Homo sapiens: one gene and its partners. The protein of the gene in region 1 purifies or fractionates together with the protein of each later gene. This does not show direct contact. Each region holds a gene or a part of one and is shown in the gene's direction. Other genes may lie near its edges. The genes, in order: RASA2, SH3PXD2B, ZMYM1 and WDR70.

Evidence for each region.
Region 2: the proteins of RASA2 (region 1) and SH3PXD2B purify together in Homo sapiens (affinity purification with mass spectrometry; one large-scale study listed by BioGRID and IntAct). This does not show direct contact.
Region 3: the proteins of RASA2 (region 1) and ZMYM1 purify together in Homo sapiens (affinity purification with mass spectrometry; one large-scale study listed by BioGRID and IntAct). This does not show direct contact.
Region 4: the proteins of RASA2 (region 1) and WDR70 purify together in Homo sapiens (affinity purification with mass spectrometry; one large-scale study listed by BioGRID and IntAct). This does not show direct contact.

What each region holds. Positions count from the first base shown.
Region 1 is NC_000003.12:141,484,619-141,490,450, forward strand, and holds the start of RASA2 (ras GTPase-activating protein 2), read left to right. Parts: upstream 1-2,408; 5' UTR 2,409-2,465; coding exon 2,466-2,598; intron 2,599-5,832. UniProt on the Homo sapiens protein: Inhibitory regulator of the Ras-cyclic AMP pathway. Binds inositol tetrakisphosphate (IP4).
Region 2 is NC_000005.10:172,342,299-172,347,530, reverse strand, and holds part of SH3PXD2B (SH3 and PX domain-containing protein 2B), read left to right. Parts: intron 1-198; coding exon 199-248; intron 249-1,269; coding exon 1,270-1,395; intron 1,396-5,232. UniProt on the Homo sapiens protein: Adapter protein involved in invadopodia and podosome formation and extracellular matrix degradation. Binds matrix metalloproteinases (ADAMs), NADPH oxidases (NOXs) and phosphoinositides.
Region 3 is NC_000001.11:35,085,400-35,090,631, forward strand, and holds part of ZMYM1 (zinc finger MYM-type protein 1), read left to right. Parts: intron 1-3,349; exon of another isoform or gene 3,350-3,760; coding exon of another isoform or gene 3,761-3,776; intron 3,777-5,232.
Region 4 is NC_000005.10:37,377,302-37,383,089, forward strand, and holds the start of WDR70 (WD repeat-containing protein 70), read left to right. Parts: upstream 1-2,016; 5' UTR 2,017-2,066; coding exon 2,067-2,091; intron 2,092-2,187; coding exon 2,188-2,253; intron 2,254-4,300; coding exon 4,301-4,384; intron 4,385-5,788.

The sequences.
Region 1 (5,832 bases):
TGAGGCATCGCTTGGCCAAGCAGGAGGAAGGCCAGAATCAGGCTGGTGAGAAAAGGGGCTCAGTGTGGCTGGAGATCAGAGGAGTCAGGTACGCTGGATCCAGTTCCAACTCTTGGCTGAAGAATTTGAACTTTAGTCATTTCTAGCATTGTTCATTACCTGTAGTGTGCTCTTGCTAGCTGGCTGAAGGGATAAATGAAGCCACTGATGTCCTCTTGAGCAGGCAACTGATAAGCTCCATTTTTTTTGTTAGGAAAGTTAATTTAAGTGGTATGTAGGAGGAATGAGAGGGATGGGGGACTTATTACCAGAGTTCCAGTCAAAAGCATGAGGTCAGTTACTGAGGTAATCCTACTACGTGCTCAGCATTCCACTAGACACTTAACACCCTGCTCCCAATACTTATTTAATCTTAATAACAACCCTTCAAAGAAGAAAGTTTAGCATTTCCACTTTACTGTTAAAGAAACAGGTTCAACCGGGCGCAGTGGCTTACACCCAGCACTTTGGGAGGCTGACGCGGATGGATCACTTGAGCCCAGAAGTTCAAGACCAGCCTGGGCAACATGGCAAAACCCCATCTCTACCAAAAATACAAAAATTAACTGGACATGGTGGCGCGCACCTGTAGTCCCAGCTACTTAGGAGGCTGACATGGGAGGATAGCTTGAGCCCAGGAAGTTGAAGCTGCAGTGAGCTGAGATCGTGCCACTGCACTCCAGCCTAGGCAACAGAGCAAGACTGTCAAAAAAAAAAAGAAAGAAAGAAAGAGAAGAAACAGAAACAGGTTTAGGAAGGTTGAGTAACTTGCCCAAATGTAAAAGGGGTAGAAACAGGCTCTATGTCTGATTCTAAAAAGGGATGCCTTTAAAAATAAGGGGGAAAAAACCCTGTAACACGTTGATACTCTTTAAATGAGAATAATTTTAACAAGGGCAATGACAGAGAATGGAAAGGAAGGAAGAGATTTCAGCAGAGTCAGAAGGATGTGGCAACTGAAAACAGCATTGGGACAAGGGATAAGAAAAAGTCAAAGTTTCTGGCCTGAGTAACAGTATAAGATGTGAACTCAGATTTGGAAAGGGAGACAGGAAATTAAGTTTTGGACTTATGTTTGAAATGACAGCAAAACATTCATATAAGAGGAAGTGGTTCACTTTATCCAACAAGTGTAAAGATCACATGGGGAAATAGAAGTCACCTGCAACACAGGCAGAACTGGAAGCTTCGCTGGCCAGGTCCATGTTAAACTCTGACCATTCTCTGGGGCTGTCCAGCCTTTGCACAGGCGGCGCGTTTGTCTTCAGTTTTCAGGTTTCCCCGTCCTATTTCTTATCTCCCAGTGCCTCTGGCCTTTTCTGTGTCTCCCTCCAGAATGAGCTGGAGCTCTCTTCATCTTGACCTTTGTGTAGTCTCTGAGGTCTGAGGCCATCACTATGTCTGACCCTCAAAAAATATTTGTTGACTGACTGGCTTATTCCTGTTGTTGCCCTGGAAAAGAATTACCCTGCCCGATTAAGTCACAGTTTCTTCCTTCTTAGGGCAGCGTAGTTAACAACCTCAACACCAGGAAATTGTCTTCCTCATCACATACCAGGGTATTATTCATGCAGTTTACTCACTGTAAAGAGTTCCCTTGAAATAAAGCTAACAATTAGTCAAAGATTTACACATTTCCTAGGGTCAGTCAACTTTTTAACAAAGCCAACTTTTAGTAGTGGTGGCGGTGGCGGGGGGGAGCCCTTCTTTGCTTTTTCTGTTCCTGAAATACAAAAGTGATGGTAAATGCTTCAGAATTTCTCTATGAGAGGGTCTCAGGCACTGCACTCACGCTGGAGTTGGGGGTGGCTGGTCCTTTTCTTGAACCAGGTTTTGCAGAGAATTGGTCCTAGTAAAGAGTATTTGTGTGGGAGGAGTTTGGCTTGCTGGCGGGGAGTATTTGGATAATACTGGAAGAGCCTCAAATGCATCTCTTGCCTCCTTTTGAATAAGATACTTTTGAGGTCCACCCACCTGCCAAATTCCATTCTATTTTCTTCCCACAGGGAGTTTCCCTGATTGGGAAGGGCCTGTATTTCCCGCGAGCGTTAGGAGATGTGCAGGTCTATTCATTGGGGGAGCCCAATTCCCGGGAGGATTTAGGGATCACGGGAGGGCCGGGGCGTTCTCCTGGTGGGGATTTTAAGGCCGCTCAGAGCCACGACTGGGAGCTACCCTTAGCCAGCGCCCCAAGCCGGGAGTACGGTTCTCTGCAGGGTAGCCCGGCTCGGGGGTGGCGAAGGCGGTGAATGGAGACCCGGGGGGGGCGGGGGCGGGGCCGCGGCGGGCGGGGCGGGGCGGGGCGAGTCGGGCCGAGGCCCGGGGGCGGGGCCAGGCGCGCGGCTGGCCTGGGCCTAGGCCGCTGCTGGGCTCCGCCTCGCCCGGCTACGCAGGCGGCAGGGCTGCGGCACGGGCCGGGCGGCACCATGGCGGCGGCGGCGCCTGCTGCTGCGGCGGCTTCTTCCGAGGCGCCAGCGGCGAGTGCGACTGCAGAGCCCGAGGCCGGGGACCAGGACAGTCGCGAGGTTCGAGTGTTGCAGAGCCTGCGGGGCAAGATCTGTAAGCGGGGGCTGGGCTGAGGGGACGCCCTGGCGGCGCTGGGCGCGAGGCTGAGGGGGCGGCGGGTTCGCGGCGGTGGCGGCGCCGAGCTGCGCTGGGATCGCGGGCCCGGGAGGGGGCCTGGGCCGGGCGCGGTTGAGGCTGGAAGGGGGTGTGTTGGGGGGCGGCGTCGCCTCGACGGGGCGGCGTGGGCCGGGGCTGCTGCTCTCCGGAGGGAGTGGGAGCTGGAGATGGGCCTGGGGTGGGAGAGCCCGGGCTGCGCCGGCGTGAGGGGCTCGGTCGTGGGGAGCGGCCTGGACGCGGGGACGCTGGAGTCCGGGGCGCGGCCGGGGGCGCGGTCCGGGGGCGTGAGGAGCTTCCGGCCGCCCTCAGACTCAGGCCTTCGCGCGGCTGCGGGCGCTGGGGAGTGGCCCCGCGGTGGGAGCCGAGCAGTAATTATACGGAGGCGCGGCCCGAGGAGGTGGCGGGCTGGGAAGTGGGGCTGGCCCGAGGGGAGGGGGCTGTTCGTTTCCTGGGCTCGGCGAGCCTGGGAGAGGTTGAAAAAGGCGCCCTGAGCTGCAGGAAACGGGCCGCCCTGGGGCCCGAGTGGCTACCGCGCGGTCTGTTCGCGGGTGAGCGCCCCGGGAGGAGCTCGGCGGGACACCTGTACTTGCCCCACCTCGCTGCGGCCGGGACTTGAATCGAGGGACGGCGTGACAGGCGGGACTAAAGGCAGGATGTAGTGGCTTCCTGTGAGCAGGTCTCAAAACACAATCACCCAGCCCGCACTCAGCCCGCTTAATTCCCTTCCTTCTCATGCGTGTAATTGCTACTTTAGTGAGCGAGCCTACCAGTTGACTAAATACGAAATTTTGCTCAGAGTTGTCCGAGCATTACTGTGGACAGATTATTTGAGTTCTGTCATTTGAACATTTTAGTTTTAAAAACGACCCTTTGGTGTCAGGTTGCCATTTTTTTTTTCACAGTGGTTTATTTAGATGAAGTGCTTTTTGTTTTCTGTTTGTAAGAGAGATCAATAACATTTATTTTTGCATTTGTCGAAAATTAGCATTATTTTCTTCATGCAGTATTCTCAGATTGGAAACATGCTTCATGTTTCTTATAAATAACCCTCAATTATGAGGGCGTACTTTTCACTTTGAAGAAAATTGACTTGCATTAAAGTGGCTAACAATTCTTTCCTGGGCAGGATGTAAAATTTTCCTCTCCTCTAATACCAGTACTGTTGAGCTCACATTCTCCCACTTTTCCTCTTTTCAGGTGGTTCACGTATTTGGGATTTTATGAAACCTCAGAAGCAGACATGTTAACTTTTCTTATCTTTTTATTCCCTGAGGTAGTCCTGGGGCTCTTAAGAGATTACAGTTCTTAAAACCTGGAAAGTGACACCAGAGAGGTAGATCTTAGTTCCCAAAATTAAAGTTACTTTCTAGGGCATAAAACCTTTTCAGAATTCAGATTAAATTTTATTTATTTTTTCTTTTTTCTGTAACCTTATATTTGAGGGGAAAATTTTGTTTTCAACTTTTGCATATATCTAATTTAACATTTGGGAAAACTGTAAATGGGCCAAAGTTTCTCCCTTTATATGATTTTCCAGATTTTTACCACTTTCTTAGTGCCACTTGATGCTAGGCATTGTCTATTGGAGACTCACTGGTACGTAACTGCAGGTTTTACCATGGAACTACATATACACATGTCTTGGAATTGAGGGTTAGGGTTTCCAGAAGGACTTAGTTGTCCTGTGCTTTTGTCTGCCCCATGCCAAAGACCACTAAGAACAGTTTTGTAAGTGAAACTTGGGTCTACACGTTAAAAAAAAGAAAAACAAAAAACCACTTTGTTTCTATGGTTTAAAGCAACCCTGGCTTGGAAATTGATCATCCAGCTGCTGGGAATGATATTACTGCTTTAACCACAGTTGAAGTATTCTATCTGTTATCCTAGTCAGTTTCTTGCTTTTTAAATTGCTTATCTTATAGCTCAGGTTATGGAGTGTCTGCTTTCTAGAAAAAAAAAATGTATTTGTATACTTATATACAGAAGCTCTCTTCCCATTTCTTTGTCCTCCTTTTAAATGATGTAATCCACAGTTGGTTGACATTCAGAACCTTGTGAAGAGATGCTGTTTTCTGTTTCCCTGAAACTAACATGTGGGTTTTGTAGGGTGGGGACTGAGGGGTTGGAAGAGTCATTAGCAGGTGTCAAGGTCACAGAAATGAGATGGTGGTGGTTCTGACAAGATATTAAGCAGCTTGGGGAGGGTGTAACCGTGTCAGCTTTTCTCTTCACCACAGTAGGAAACCTTGGAAGAAAGCCTGATAGTGCCCACTAGGAGATGTGCTGGCAGATTTTATACTACTGATTGAGAGCCTCTTTTCTGGAGAGTTAGAGATCTGTAGGGGCTGAAAATTAGCCTGAAGAAATTTTCTTATTTCTGGACTTGCATAGGACTTTTAAACTGCACATCACCCCAGTGAAAAGTGAGGATGGATTGGTTTATGTATCTTGAATGTTCAAGAGATAATAGTCCATAACCTTCTTTAGGGATTTCATTCCTGTAATTATTTCCCCTTATACTTCACAAGGTGAAATATCTGTCAGTTGGACAGATATTTGTCTATTGGACAAGAGGAAACTTAACAAAAAGTGGTAACCAAAAAGGTGGAGGTCACAAAATAACAACATGAGACCTCAATATATATAAAGGATGAAGCCCCAATACCCCTTTTTTGCTTGAGTGTACTTTTTTTTTTTTTTTTGCCGGGGGGCTGGGGAGGAGGGAAGAAGGGACATGCAAATATGTTTCAGGTGTTTTATATGCGCTCAAACGAACCCAGGGAATTCGAGATCCATCTATAAGACAAAATATTGTCAGCAACCCTGGATTTGCTGCAGTTTGCGCTAGGAAACCATGACAGTTCTGAATTGTCTGCTTCCTTAAACTTTTTCAAGAGGTGAGTTTGGTTGTTTGATATCCTAAGGTTGTCATATGAACCCTTGATAAAGGAAATTAGGGGTGTACTCGACTCCATTCTTCGGTCTGCACTCCTGTGTAGCGAGTAGCAAGTATGCTAGAACACCTGAAACACATTTGCATGCTCCCTCCTCCCCTCAAAAAAAAAAAAAAAAAAAAAACCGTATTCAAACAGAAAAGAGGGATTGGGGCTTCCTCCTTTATGTATCTTCAGGCTTCATGCTGTTATTTGGTGACCTCCTTTTTGATTAGCA
Region 2 (5,232 bases), on another chromosome or scaffold:
CGTCGAGAGAGTCCTGAGCCAACTATGAGCCACGCGTGAGCAGCTCCTTCCTGCCCAGGCTGTTCTCACAGGGAGGGTTGCAGCAGCATGCAGACGCCTGTGTTCAATCTTCTGCAGGAGAAAATAGACCCGACCTGGCACCCAGCTCAGGAATCTCATCTGTAGCACAAGATGTAATAAGCTCTCATTTCTCCATAGGATCACCAAAGATGAGGCAGAGACCCCCTCCTCGCCGGGACATGACCATTGTAAGTGGATCCTCGCTACTGGGGAGTGGCCACTGACTTGAGGGCTGTGAGGGGTGTCCACTAGCCCCTCACACACCCCTCGCCCTTCCAGAAATGCTCTCTTTCCTGTCCACACAACAGCCTTGTGAAGCAGGCTGTAGAAATGCTAGTCCCACTCGCAGGTGGAAAGACGGAGGTGCAGGCAGGTGAAACAGTTTGCCCGCGGGGCCAGAGTGCTCCTGTGACAGTTGGGCCTCAGGACCTGCCTTCTGCTCCCTGGGCCCTTCTCTTGGTCTTAGATCAGTCTTCTCAGGCGACTTGAGGCCCAAGCTGAGATGAGACACAAATATCATCTGTGGTCCCATTCTGATATTCTGCGCTCATAATCCATTATGTAAAATTCTCTAGGTACCTTTTTAGCCAATACTTTGAACCCAATGGGTTGTTGTTGGGTTTTGGGGTTTTTTTTATTTGTTTGCATTGGTTTTTGAGACGGGGTCTTGCTCTTTTGGGGTTGTATTTTTTTAATGTCTGCTATTTATCAAGCACCTGTTGCGTGCCATGCAGCGTGCCGATTGCCTCACAACATTAACTAATTTAATACTTGAAGCAACCCCACCAGGTAGACACTGTTATGCCCACTCTGCAGGAGAGAAAACTGAGGCTCCAGAAGGGGGTGATTTGCCCAAGGACACTCCCACCATCAGTGTTTCCAACCCAGATAGATCTACTAATAAACTTAAGCTCCCTCCACAACCCTCACTGCCTCTTATTTCAGAGAATATTGTCTTGCTCCAAATTCTCATGATTGTACCCAAATGTCCCGTGTTTCTTCCCATCACCCTAAAGCTGATGGGCCAGTGAGGTCTCACCGAGGAGTGACAAACTGCGTGGTCCTATTTGTGTTGTCCCTTAGAATCCAACTAGGTCCCCAGCACCCCCTTAAGGGTGATTGCATGCCCCAGGCCCTTAGACTCCCCCTGACACAGGGTCGCAGGAGTGCACTTAGCCTTGGAGATAACCCTGTGTGTGATCGTACCAGCCTCGAGGCCTCAACCTGCCGAAGCCGCCCATCCCGCCCCAAGTGGAGGAAGAGTATTACACCATCGCCGAATTCCAGACAACCATCCCAGACGGCATCAGCTTCCAGGCAGGCCTGAAGGTCGAGGTGAGTGGCCCTGGTGTTCCTTTGCCTACTTGTGATTCCTGATTCCAGGCATCACCTCCTACTTCTCCCCTGTCACCTCCTACTTCACTGGGTGGGTGGAGGTGGGGCGGAGATTAACAGCTTTATGGTTCACATACCATACAGTTTACAATTTTAAGTGTAAAATTCAGCGGCTTATGATATTCACAGGGTTGCACAACCCTCACCACTGTCTAATTCCAGAACAAAAAGAAACTCCTTACCCATCAACAGCCACCCTCCATTTCCCCTCAACTTGCCAGCCCCTAGGCAGCCACCAATCCACTTTCTGTCCCCATAGATGTGCCTGTTTTAGACATTTCATATAGATGAAATCCCACAGTATGTGGTCTTGTGTGACTGGCTGTATGCCTTTCTTTACCACCTCCCACCTCCGTTCTTGCTTCTCCTCTCTCCTTTTCTTCCCACTCTCTCTGTTTGTCTACTTTGTTCCCCAGATTCTCTTCCTGCATTTCTCTTTCCTTTCCTCATGGGGTTAGAGCTTCAAGATATTTCTTTCTCATATTTGCAAGAAAACCTGTAAGTAAGGGGATGGCAGCTAGGGCCAGGGTTTGGAAACCTTTGGCAAAGATGGTTCTTGAGACACTTTCAAAAGCAGGTGAGCCAATCACAGGTATCACCAAATTCACTCTGTCATGTGTAAGAGTTGGTCAGACCCTCCCCACCTCACCTTGGGAGGCCAAGGTTCAATTTATTCATCTCTGCAACAAATAAAATGCTCCTGGATCTCCTACTATGGTTGTGTGTGGCGGCTGCTTTTCTAGGCCCTGAAGAGTTGTCGTCACCATCCTCTTTCCTTTAAAGAACACAGCTCTGGTCCCTGGCACAGAGCACTGTCTGATGGCACAGGGCAGTAGACACCATTGATCAGTTCACTCCAGCATACCTCTTTAGGGCCCCTCCCTTCCTTCCTGGCTATATTCCAGGAAGGACTATAGCCTGCCTGCCTGCACGCCTTCATTCCTTCCTTCCCTCCTTCCTTCCCTTCTTCCTTCCCTCCTTCTTTCCTTCCCTCCCTCCTTCCTTCCTCCTTCCTCCTTCCTTTGTTTTCCTTCCCTTCTTCCTTTCCTCCCTCCTTTCCCTCCTTCTCTCTTTCCTCCCTCCTTCCTCCTTCTTTCTTTCTCTCCCTCCTTCCTTCCTTTCCTCCATCCTCCTTCCTGCCTTTCTTCCATCCTCCTCCTTCCTTTTCCCTTACTCCAGCTTGCCAGCAGCTCCACCAGGCACAACATCTGGCCCAGGCCTTGCTGTGTACTACAGTCGAGAGGCTAGTTCTGCATCCTCTGGCCCCTGCTTCCAGAGGCATTGAAGTATCTTCATGTTTCACTAGAAGGAAATCCTTTTGTGTTTTCACTTTGCTATTATCTGAGTGAAGGGCTAAAGGGATGAGATTTGGGAAAATTCTGAATTGTGTTTTAATCCATTATAGAAAAATCTGCCCCTTCATACTCTTTCATTGTATACACATGTATTGAGTGCCTCCTTTTTTTTTTTTTTTTTTTTTTTTTTTTGACAGAGCCTCGCTCCTCTGTTGCCCAGGCTGGAGTGCAATGGCTCAATCTCAGCTCACTGCAACCTCCGCCTCCCAGGTTCAAGTGATTCTCCTGCCTCAGCCTCTCTAGTAACTGGGATTACAGGCGCCCAACATGACGCCCGGCTGATTTTTGTATTTTTAGTAGAAACAGGGTTTTGCCATGTTGGCCAGGCTGGTCTCGAACTCCTGACCTCAGGTGATCTGCCCACCTCGGCCTCCCAAAGTTCTGGCATTACAGGCGTGAGCCACTGCACCTGGCTAGATGTTGTTTTCTTATGATAGATCCATATGCTCTGTTTTTCTCTTCTCCAGTTTTGCTTCCTGGCTCATTGCAACATTATCTTAGCCTTCAAAATTCATTAATGGAACCACAGCATTCTAGCAGTAGGGCTACCAGTAACACCTTAGTTACTTGTCTAGGCTGTTTATCTTCAGGATGTGTTATGATAATGATGATGATGATGATGATGATGATATAGGCACCTCTTCTGTGTCAGGTACCTTACCTCCTTGATAACTGATCTTCACAGAAGTCCCAAGAGGTCAAAATACCAGCATCATAGGGTTGGTTGGTTAGTTTGTTTTTCTTTTTTTTTTTTCTATCAGCATGTTTTATAGATGAGACTCAGGGGGGTTAGGTAAATTATTTGCCTCTAGTAACACAGCTAGTAAGCAATGGAGTTGTGAAACCAGGTCTTTCTGGTTTTAAAGCCCACACTCTTTTCTTTCCCCTCATTCTTGTGATCTTTTTTTTTTTCTTTGAGACGGAATCTTGCTCTGTCACCCAGGCTAGAGTGTAATGGCATGATCTTGGCTCGCTGCAACCTCCACGTCCTAGGTTCAGACAATTCTCTTGCCTCAGCCTCCCAAGTAGCTGGGATTACAGGCGCCTGCCATCACACCTGGCTAATTTTTTTTTGTATTTTTAGTAGAGACGGGGTTTCACCGTGTTGGCCAGGCTAGTCTCGAACTCCTGACCTCAGGTGATCCGCCCGCCTAAGCCTCCCAAAGCGGTGGAATTGCAGGCGTGAGCCACCGCACCCGGCTTCTGATCTTGCATTTGCTTTTATTCCTAGTAGTTCTTGGCTTCCCTCTAGTAAATGAAAACGCCCATTCCTCATGGTTCAGAACACACATGTTCAGAGCTTCTACCACAATACTTTGCAAAGAGTGTAAGCTTGACAAATCTTACTGATACATCTAATATTGATTACCCTATTTTCAGTTCCTCACATACAGACTTAAGTATTAGTGTTGTTGAATTCATGGATGTGCTGACGATGACTCGTATGCCCAGTGTGGCCTGTAATTTTTACCAGAGCTATCAAGCGTTGATAAGATGCCAGTCATCCTCACATAAACAGCTTACATTTATCAGTGGCCTTTCCTGGAGATTCCAGTGGGACTCATTAAGTGCTGCCTGTCAAGTGCATCCCGCTGGCTCAGTGACCTCCACTCTAATTTAATCGCAGCAGCATTATTTACCAAGTGCTGTTGTATGCATTAGCTCTTGCGGCTGCAAAAATTCTACAAGTGGGTGTTAAATTGTTCTTACCATTTTCCTTCTGTGATGTGGAATCTGAGGCACGTGGCTTGCCCCAGGCCACTCAGGCAGTAAGTGGCAGAGCCAAGACTAGAACCCAGGACTGCAGGCCCAGGAGCCCAGCATTTGCGTCCTGGCGCTGAGTCTGTGGCTGCCATCCCTCTCCCAGAAGGGCCACAAAGTACCCGCAGCCATCTTTGCTCCTTCTGCAATTTCTTACCCCGGACACAGCCCTTCTCCAAGCAGGGTCTTTTTTTTTTTCGAGACAGAGTCTTGCTCTGTCGCCCAGGCTGGAGTGCAATGGCACGATCTCGGCTCACTGCAACCTCTGCCTCCCAGGTTCAAGCGTTTCTCCTGCCTCAGCCTCCCGCGTAGCTGGGATTACAGGCGCATGCCACCACACCCAGCTAATTTTTTGTATTTTTCGTAGACGCAGGGTTTCACCATGTTGGCCAGGCTGGTCTCAAACTCCTGACCCAGGTGATCCGCCCGCCTTGGCCTCCCAAAGTGCTGGGATTACAGGTGTGAGCCACCGCGCCCGGCCAGGGGTTTCTTTTCTGAGAGGCAAGATTAGGTGACTCTGAAGCCCACCCCGCTGCCTTTGACTCTCCTCCGATCGACGGCCCTTCTACAGGACCCGCTGTGTGTTCCTCAGCTCTCCTGAGGCTCCGTTCTGCATGCGTAAAATGAGGTGACAGTTCCCCACTCACAGGGTGTCATGAGC
Region 3 (5,232 bases), on another chromosome or scaffold:
TTCCAAACTGCATAGGATCTGATTAGGCAGAAATGACTTTGGCAGGAAGGAAAGCAGTATGAGGACAAGTAAAGTGAGGAGGTTAAGGTGCAGCTGATTCTTTGCCTTGACATCTGTCTCCCTTTCCCTCTGGCCCAAAGAGGAGGATAGTGTTTTCTCCTGTGGTTGTTGTAGATCTCCCTTTGGCTGCAGCTGTCCTTTCCTGACCCTGAAACCACCTCCATGACTACATTCCAGCTTCAGGGACAATAGCCTCCTTCCTTGAACAGTCATTCCTAGAGCTCTCTTGGGCCTGCCCTTTCTTGCCTTTGGTGTGGCACATGCCAGCCACCTAGCTCTAATAGGGAATTATTGTTGTTAAATCAGTATTCTGTACCCCTCATTCCCAGCCTAGTTTTGAAATGTACTTGTGGTTGGAGTGCTAGGTTCACACTGGCCCCTAGCATTTGTGGGGTCCTTGCTAAGAGTATGAATGGAAGCCCACATACTCTGTGTCTAAATATTTAAAAGTTATAAATTAAGCTAACACATCGTGGAATAAAATGAGTTCCATCCTCCTGCCGTGACAAATACACCTTTGTAATGACCAAATAGAAAAACACGTGTAAAGCTGTGGTTTTCAGGACTGAAAGTAAGCAAATTTTCAATGATGACAGAATTCAATTTTATGTATTACGTTTAAACATTGTATTTGGGTTACTCATGGTAAATTGTTATCACAGAAAATATTGAAGATTTGAATTTCATTATATAAATCACTGTCATTCATAATGTGGCTTTTTAAAATCATTTCTTCAAGTCATATTTATATTCATACAGAATTTTAAGGTTTTTTCCCAAAATTTTCAATATATACAGAATTTTAAGGTTTTTTCCCAAAATTTTCAATATTGGGTTATTAGTTTATTTTATTTATTTATTCTGAGATGGAATCTTACTCTGTCACACAGGCTGGAGTGTGGTGGCGCAATCATATCTCACTGCAACCTCTGCCTCCCAGGTTCAGGTGATCCTCCTGCCTCAGCCTCCTGAGTAGCTGGGACTACAGTCTGGGCTATTTATAAAAAGCAGAAAATGACTGTTTGTTGCTAAATTTGTTCAACTCTGTCTCCAATCAAGATTGTAACTTAATCTGTAGCAGTAAAAAAAATAGTCTCTATATAAATTAGTTTTGAGATTATATGTCTGTGAATCTTATTCATCGTCATGCAGTTTCCTTTCATTATTGTAACTGCCTTATATTTCATTGAAATCTCATGCAATTTTTTTTTCAATTAAAAAATTCTTTTTTTTTCTTTTGAGATGCAGTTTCGCACTGTCACCCAGGCTTGAGCGACAGTGAGCTTGATCTCAGCTCACTACATCCTCCACCTCCTGGGTTTAAGCAATTCTCTGCCTCAGCCTCCCGAGTAGCAGGGATTACAGGCGCCCACCACCACGCTTGGCTAATTTTTTTTGTATTTTTAGTAGAAACAGGGTTTCACCATCTTGGCCAGGCTGATTTTGAACTCCTGACCCTGTGATCCACCCACCTCAGCCTCCCAAAGTGCTGGGATTACAGGCATGAGCCACCGCACCCAGCCTTTTTTTTTTTTTTTTTTTTTTTTTTGAGATGGAGTCTTGCTCTGTCGTACCCAGGCTGGAGTGCAGTGGCACGATCTCCACTCACAGCAGCCTCCATCTCCCAGGTCAAGAGATTCTCCTGTCTCAGCCTCCCAAGAGCTGGAACTACAGGTGTGTGCCACCACACCTGACTAATTTTTTGAATTTTGAGTAGAGATGGGGTTTTACCATGTTGGCCAGGCTAGTCTCGAACTCCTGACTTCAGGTAATCTGCCTGCCTCAGGCTCCCAAAGTGCTGGGATTACAGAGGTGAGCCACTGTGCCCGCCCAAAAATTCATTTTTTAACAGTAGTTTGAACCATCAGGGTTATATAAATACTATTGTACTAATTTTCCAGGAGGAATCTGGATGATATCCCCTGGAGGTCTATATGTGTATCTGGAAATAACTCTTGAAACTTGCATTTTCTTTTTTTTTTTTGAGATGGAGTTTCGCTCTTCTTGCCCAGGCTGGAGTGCAATGGCGCAGTCTCAGTTCACTGCAACCTCTGCCTCCTGGGTGCAAGTGATTCTCTTGCCTCAGCCTCCCAAATAACTGGGATTACAGGCATGCCCCACCACGCTCGGCTAATTTTTTGTATTTTTAGTAGAGACAGGGTTTCTCCATGTTGGTCAGGCTGGTCTCGAACTCCCAACCTCAGGTGATCAGCCCGCGTTGGCCTCCCAAAGTTCTGGGATTACAGGCGTGAGCCACCACGCCTGGCCTCGAAACTTGCAGTTTCTTTGTGATCTCGTGTTTTACTTTAAGAATGAATATGGGCCGAGGGCAGTGGCTCATGCCTGTAATCCCAGCACTTTGGGAGGCTGAGGCCGGTGGATCATGAGGTCAGTAGTTCAAGACCAGCCTGGCCAAGATGGTGAAACCCGATCTCTACTAAAAATACAAAACTTAGCCAGGCATGCTGGCTGGTGCCTATAATCCCAGCTACTCAGGAGGCTGAGGCAGATAATTGGTTGAACCTGGGAGGCGGAGGTTGCAGTGAGCTGAGATTATGTCACTGCACTCCAGCCTGGGTGACAGAGAGAGATTCCATCTCAAGAAAAAAAAATGAATGTGAATTTTGTTGTCTGCTCTTATCATATTTCTCTCTTTGGTTTAAATTAAAATATTTTATGGCTGGGCGCGGTGGCTCACACCTGTAATCCCAACACTTTGGGTGGCCGAGGCAGGCGGATCACAAGGTCAGGTGATCGAGACCATCCTGGCCAACATGGTGAAAACCCGTCTCTACTAAAAATACAAAAATTAGCTGAGCTTGGTAGCACGTGCCTGTAATCCCAGCTACACAGGATGCTCAGGCAGGAGAATCGCTTGAACCCGGGAGGTGGAGGTTGCAGTGAGCCGTGATCGTACCGCTGCACTCCAGCATGGGCAACAGAGTGAGACTCCATCTCAAAAATGTGTTTATGTGTATATATATATATATATATATGTGTGTGTGTGTGTGTGTGTGTGTGTGTGTGTGTGTGTGTGTGTGTATGTACATATATGTATATATATTTTATATTACTACCAAGTAGTATTGCCCAGCAGGAAGATGTGCAACATTCATCCTTTGACTATTAATACCTGTACTCTTTCATACTATGATTTAGCCCTAGTTTGGAAAGATGAGTAGGGCTATATTAAAAGAAAGTCTGTAGGACTTATTTTACTCTAATGTGCATCTTGTTGGAAAAGGAAGTAATGGATCTGTCACTAATACATGTTTTGCTCTTCTTATAGCCAAACAAATGTTGCATAGCATTTTCCCTTGCCTCAGAAATTTTCAGGATGCTTTCCTTTTTTTTTTTTTTTTTTGTTTTTGAGACAGAGTCTCACACTCTTGCCTGAGCTGGAGTGCAATGGCATGATCTCGGCTCACTGCAACCTCTGCCTCCCAGATTCAAGCAATTCTACTGTCTCAGCCTTCCGAGTAGCTGGGATTACAGGCGCCCACCACCACGCCCGGCTAATTTTTTGTATTTTTTAGTGGAGATGGGGTTTCACTGTGTTGGCCAGGCTGGTCTTGAACTCCCGACCTCCTCATCCACCCACCTCAGCCTCCCAGAGCGCAGGGATTTCAGGCATGAGCCACTGCGCCCAGCCTCCACTATTTTTATGTTTGTATGGTGACACATTTGAAGGAGTTGCAAGATGCCAAAGCTCATAGGTACTTTGTTTTGTTTTATCTTACGAATAACAATAATTGTACCTCACGTAAACCTCATTGGCTGTGATACCGCCACTGCACAAAACTCGGTGCTTTGTTTTTAATTGATGTTTAAGACTTGCATGGCATGTGTACTTTCAGGTGAAGGGAATCTACCTAATGACAAATAGTTAATTTTTAGTGAGTTTTGCTTTACTGTTTGTGTATAATGCTCAAATGGGCTGGACAGAGGCTGTATGAGCTATTTATTGCACTTGACTCTCAGGCCTTATTTAACTTTCTGCATTGGGATAGGAACTTTCAACAAAAGCTGAGCTAAAGATGGAAATGAGGGAAGGTGGTTGAGCCCCAATCACAGAAATAAAAAATAATGGCAGAATTACTTGGGTCTTTCATGTACTAACCCAGAATAAAACCATAGTCCTGGAATTACTCCTGTAAGAGGTTTTTTGTTATTTTTTTCTTTTTTTGAGCCCATTATTCTAAGTGATCCTGTAACAACTTCAACTTCTCCACATTTGTGTTAGTTATCATCTGCCCTCCATAATGATTAGTTGTAAGGCTTTTTTTTTTTTTTTTTTTTTTTTTGAGATGGAGTCTTGTTCTGTCACCCAGACTGGAGTGCAGTGGCATGATCTTGGTTCACTGCAAGGTCTGCCTCCCAGGTTCACGCCATTCTCCTGCCTCAGCCTCCCGAGTAGCTGGGACTACAGGTGCCCGATATAAGGCTCTTTTTTTTTTTTTTTTGAGACAGAGTCTCGCTCTGTCGCCCAGGCTGGAGTGTAGTGGCGCGATCTCGGCTCACTGCAAGCTCCGCCTCCCGGGCTCATGCCATTCTCCTGCCTCAGCCTCCCAGAGTAGCTGGGACTACAGACACCTGCCACCACGCCCGGCTAATTTTTTTGTATTTTTAGTAGAGATGGGGTTTCACCATGTTAGCCAGGATGGCCTCGATCTCCTGACCTCGTGATCCACCCACCTCGGCCTCCCCAAGTGCTGGGATTACAGGCGTGAGCCACCGAGCCTGGCCTATAAGGCTCTTTTTTAAGGATCTAGGAGACAGGAAGACTTGCACTCTGAAGCCAAGCTAGGGTGGCAGGAAGGGAAAGGGTTCCAAAGGATTTAGAATCAGAGGTAACAGCTACCAGATAAGTGGAAAGTAGGCCTCAGTCAAGGAAAAAGGAGAAAAGAAGGAACCAATCTGTCTTTGAAAAAGAGACCTTGCTGGGAGGGATAGCATTAGAAGCTATACCTAATATAGGTGACAGGTTGATGGGTGCAGCAAACCACCATGGCATGTGTATACCTATATAACAAAACTGCACGTTCTGCACATACACCCCAGAACTTTAATGAAAAAAGAAAAAGAGACCTTGCTTTCGTAGTTCCTCAAAAGTTGTAAGATTGACCAAAAAGGAATCTATTGATTTGGATAGTGAGGAGAAGCAGGCAGGCA
Region 4 (5,788 bases), on another chromosome or scaffold:
GCCCACGCCTGTAATCCTAGCACTTAGGGAGGCTGAGGCGGGTGGATCGCTTGAGCTCAGGAGTTCAAGACCAGCATGGGCAACATGATGAAACCCTATCTCTACAAAAAATACAAAAATTAGGCCGGGCACAGTGGCTCACGTCTGTAATCCCAGCACTTTGGGAGGCTGAGGCGGGCATATCACTTGAGGTCAGGAGTTTGAGACCAGCCTGGCCAACATGGTGAAACTCTGTCTCTACTAAGAATGCAAAAATTAGCCAGGGGTGGTGGCAGGGCCTGTAATCCCAGCTACTCGCAAGGCTGTGGCAGAATTGCTTGAACCCAGGAGGCGGAGGTTGCAGTGAGCTGAGATCGCGCCACTGCACTCCAGTCTGGGCAATGGAGCGAGACTCTGTCTCAAAAAAAAAAAAAAAAGTCGGGTGTGGTGGCGGTCACATGTAATCCCAGCTACTTAGGAGGCTGAGGCACAAGAATCGCTTGAACCCAGGAGGTGGAGGTTCATTGAGCCGAGATTGTGCCACTGCATTCCAGCCTGGGTGACAGAGTGAGATTCTGTCTCAAAAAGAAAGAGATTCTTCTCCACCTTCTAAACGTTAAAGTGTTGAACTCCCACATTCTGTTTAAGAAGGACAATCCTGAGCACACGATTAGCCTTGTAAACTTTAGACTGACAGGCCAGGTGCAGTGGCTCACGCCTTTAATCGCAGAACTTTGGGAGGCTGAGGTGGGCAGATCACAAGGTCAGGAGATTGAGACCATCCTGGCTAACACGGTGTAAACCCTGCCTCTACTAAAAATAGAAAAAATTAGCTGGGCGTGGTGGCGGGTGCCTGTAGTCTCAAATACTAAATAGCCGGGCATGGTGGCGCACACCTGTAGTCCCAGCTGCTCGGGAGGCTGAGGCAAGAGAATCGCTTGAACCTGGGAGGCAGAGGTTGCAGTCAGCTGAGATCACGCCACTGCACTCCAGCCAAGGCAACAGAGGGAGACTCAGTCAACAACAACAACAACAACAACAAAAAGGCAGAGCGCGGTGGCACGGGGCCTGTAATCCCAGCACTTTGGGAGGCCAAGGTGGGCAGATCACCTGAGGTCAGGAGTTCAAGACCAGCCTGGCCAACATAGCAAAACCCCGTCTCTACTAAATACACAAAAATTAGCCGGGTGTGGTGGCAGGCGCCTGTAATCCCAGCTACTCAGGACACTGAGGCAAGAGAAGAGCTTGAACCTGGGTGGCAGAGGTTGCAGTGAGCCGAGATCACGCCATTGCACTCCAGCCTGGGCAACAGAGTGAGACTCTGCCTCAAAAAAAAAAAAAAAAAAAAAAAAAGCAAAGGGTGTCGCCTGTAATCCCAGCACTTTGGGAGGCCGAGGCAGGCGGATCACTTGAGGCCAGGAGTTCGAAACCAGCCTGGCCAACATGGCAAAACGTCGTGTCTACTAAAAATACAAAAAATTAGCTGCGCGTGGTGGTGGACGCCTGTAATCCCAGCTACTTGGGAGGCTGAGACAGGAGAATCGCTTGAACCCGGGAGGCGGAGGTTGCAGTGAGCCGAGATCACGCCATTGCACTCCAGCCTGGGCGACAGAGGCTCCGTCTCAAAACAAAAACAAAAACAAAAAAAAAACAAACCAAAACAAAAAACCAAAAATTAGCCGGCACCTGTAATCCCAGCTACTCGGGAGGCTGAGGCAGGAGAATCGCTTGATCCCGGGAGGCAGAGGTTGCAGTCAGCTGAGATTACGCCACTGTACTGCAGCCTGGGCGACAGAGGCTCTGGCTTAAAAAAAAAAAAAAAAAAAGGGAAAGGATGTTATAGAAACTCCAGATACTACTTCTCCCCTCCAGTGGTCTGAGTTGCGCGGCGCTTTCCCGCCTGTCCGGTAGGGCGGTGCCGCGCAGAAAGCCGCGGTCCCTCTGCGGAAGGCGCCGCTCTTGGCTTCGGCGGCGCCGCTGTAGCTTGAAGGCGGTACTTCCTCCAGCATTTGCCGCAAGTTATTGGCAAGTTCCCCTGCAGTTGTTTGGGCTGTCCCTGTGGCTGGTTCTGGGGTGTGCGGCCAGCCATGGAGCGCTCTGGGCCCAGCGAAGGTGGGTTTCATGAGGCGAGTCCGGGCGGGGTGGGCCGTGTCGGGGGAGCTGGGGCGCCGCACTAACTAGGCCGCCTCTCTTTTCCTCTTGCTCCAGTGACAGGCTCAGACGCGTCGGGACCGGACCCGCAGCTTGCGGTCACCATGGGCTTCACGGGGTTCGGTGAGTGACTGCCCCAGGCAGAGACCCTCTTCCTTGTGCAGAGGTTTGAAGATCCGCAGAGTGGGAGTGGAGATCGAGCTGTCAACTCGGAATTATTGTAGCTCGGGTGCATACCTTGCAGTTTGTCAATATTCTTCTCCCATTTGTCTTCTATTCTGCGTTATCCGTTGGAACCAACTCAGATGACAGTTATGAGAGTCTGGAGAGAGAGGAAGAGAAAGGATTTTTCTAATTTTAAGTCACCAATAATGCTAAAATGAACATTTTTGTAAATAACAGCATTTGTACGAGGATTTTTAAAAATACGTAATTCGGTAGGGTAGATTTCTAAAAGAGAGTGTAGTTTATTCAGAAATATAAATACTTAAAAAGCTGAAAAATTGGGTATGTGCCTTTTAAAGCTTCTTGATGCTTATTGCCGTAATACCCATCAAAAAACTTGTTCCAGGTTATACCAAAGTTAACAGAATTAAGAATGCCATTTTTACCATATCCCTACCAACACAGAGTAGGTATTATTATTTAAAAAGAAAATTATTTAAAAAATGAAAACAAAACTTAGTAGACTGATACATGAAAAATGATTTCTCTTTATTTTCCATTTTAAAATTATAAATGCTGTTCATCCAAACATTGGGATTCTAACTTCCCTGAACCTTTTCTCAAGGTCTTCTTGTTTTCTTTTGACCAGCGTGTATTAATTCTATGATAGTAATTAAACAGTAGACTTACACATATTGGCCTTGGGTTGTGTTCACACATACTAGTTCTGTAGTTTCTCTATTCATTCTTTTTTTTTTTGGAGACGGAGTCTCGCTCAGTCGCCCAGGCTGGAGTGCGGTGGCAAGATCTCGGCTCACTGCAATCTCTGCCTCCCGGATTCACGCCATTCTCCGGTCTCAGCCTCCCGAGTAGCTGGGACTACAGGCGCCCGCCACCTCGCCCGGCTGATTTTTTTTTTGTATTTTTAGTAGAGACAGGGTTTCACCGTGTTAGCCAGGATGATCTCGATCTCCTGACCTCGTGATCCGCCCGTCTCGGCCTCCGAAAGTGCTGGGATTACAGGCGTGAGCCACTGTGCCCAGCCTTTTCTATTCTTTTTTTATTTTTTGAGATGGAGTCTCGCTCTGTCACCCAGGCTGGAGTGTACTAGTGCGATCTTCGCTCATTGCAGCCTCCTCCTCCCAGGCTTAAGCCATCCTCCCACCTTAGTCTCCTGAGTAGCTGGGACCACAGATGTGTGCCACCACACCTGGCTAATTTTTTATACTTTTGGTAGAGACGAGGTTTCACCATGTTGCCCAGGCTGATCAATCTCCTGAGCTCAAGCAGTCCGCCCACCTGAGCCTCTCAAAGTGATTACAGGCATGAGCCACCCCACCCGGTATAAATCCTTCATTTTAGTACATCATTCCTTTACTCAGGAGTGAGAAAGTTGTCCATATGTTTGTGCCAAATAGGGGAAAATTTTAAGAGTTTTGATAAAGTTACTGGGGGAGGAGGAGAATGTTTCCATGCTCATCCAGTTCCTTGTTAGAGGGCTGAGATTTCTGTTTCCCTCTTAGCTCCTTAAAGTACCTGCATTACTTCTCATGTTGCCCCTTTCGTCTTCAAGCCAACTATAATGCCTCAAATTCTTCTCAGACATTGGATCTCTCTGACTTCTTCTGCCATAGCTGTTCTGCATCTTTGCCTTTAAGGGCCAAATAGGATAGTTTCCCTATTTAAAAGTCCATAACCTTAATTATATTGCAAAGGGTAACTTTTGGGGCATTCTCCATTTTGCCTCCCCACATCAGTGTTGTTGTTTCATAGGGTAGGGATCTAGAGGAGGATGGGAAAGTTGCCTGGTTAATAGTACTTAGTGAAGGGATTGTCAGCAGAAGTTTTCTGTGACTCAAACTCCTTCTTCTGTGATATATTATGGTTATATTGGAGCCATGCTATAAACTAGACAAAGTAAGTGTTTATTGATCAGTATTGATCACCTAAAGTTTGGCCAACTTACTGCAAGACAATCACAGTCTCCCATTTGTTCATGTTTTAGGTAAAAAAGCTCGCACATTTGACTTGGAAGCAATGTTTGAACAAACTCGAAGGACAGCTGTGGAAAGAAGTCGCAAAACACTGGGTAAGAAGCTCAGATATTTGTTCTTTTATTGGTTTAAGTACTATGTATACCTCATGCAAGTATATTAAAAAAGAGAAAAGAATGTTGGCTGGGCGCGGTGGCTCATGCCTGTAATCCCAGCACTTAGGGAGGCCAAGGCGGGCAGATCACCTGAGGTCAGAAGTTTGAGACCAGCCTGGCCAACATGGTGAAACCCCATCTCAACTAAAAATACAATAATTAGCTGGGCATGGTGCAGGGGCCTGTAATCCCAGCTAGTCGTGAGGCTGAGGCAGTGGCTTCAGTTGAAGTCGGGAGGCAGAGGTTGCAGTGAGCTGATATACCCCCATTGCACTCCAGCTTGGGGGACAAGAGTGAAATTCCATCTCAGAGAACAAAGAGAGAAAAGAATGTTGTTATGCTACTTATCACTGTTGTTTTTTTTTTTTTTTGAGATGGAGTCTCGCCCTGTTGCCCAGGCTGGAGTGCAATGGCATGATCTCGGCTCACTGCAGCCTCCACCTCCCCGGTTCAAGCGATTCTCCTGCCTCTGCCTCCCGAGTAGCTGGGACTATAGGCACATGCCACCACGCCCAGCTAATTTTTTGTATTTTTAGTAGAGATGGGGTTTCACTGTGTTGGCCAGGCTAGTTTCGAACTCCTGACCTTGTGATCTGCCTACCTTGGCCTCCCAAAGTGCTGGGATTACAGACGTGAACCACTGTGCCCCGCTTTTTGTTTTTTTGTTTTGTTTTGTTTTGTTTTTGAGATGGAGTCTCGCTTTATTGCTGGGCTGGAGTGCAGGGGTGCGATCTTAGCTCACTGCAACTTCTACCTCCCCGGTTCAAGCAATTTTCCTGCCTCAGCCCCCCAGGTAGCTGGGACTACAGGTGTACGCCACCACGCCCAGCTAATTTTTGTATTTTTAGTAGAGATGGGGTTTCACCATGTTAGCCAGGATGGTCTTGATCTCTTGATCTTGTGATCTGCCTGCCTCCTAAAGTGCTGGGATTACAGGTGTGAGCCACCGCACCCGGCCCAATTTATCATTTTAAGACCAACAATGGGCCAGGTGTAATGGCTCATGCCTGTAATCCCAGCACTTTGGGAGGCTGAGGCAGGTGAATCACGTAAGGTCAGGAGTTCGTGACCAGCCTGGCCAACATGGTGAAACCCCGTCTTGACTGAAAATAGAAAAACTATCTGGGTGTGGTGTTGGGCCCCTGTAATCCCAGCTAGTAGGGAGGGTGAGGCAGGAGAATCGCTTGAACCTGGGAGGCAGAGGTTGTGGTGAGCTGAGATCGCACCATTGCACTCCAGCCTGGGCGACAAAAGCAAAACTCCATCTCAAAATAAAAAAAATAAAATAAAATAAAATGGGCGACAAGAGCAAAACTCCATCTTAAAATAAAATAAGATAAAATA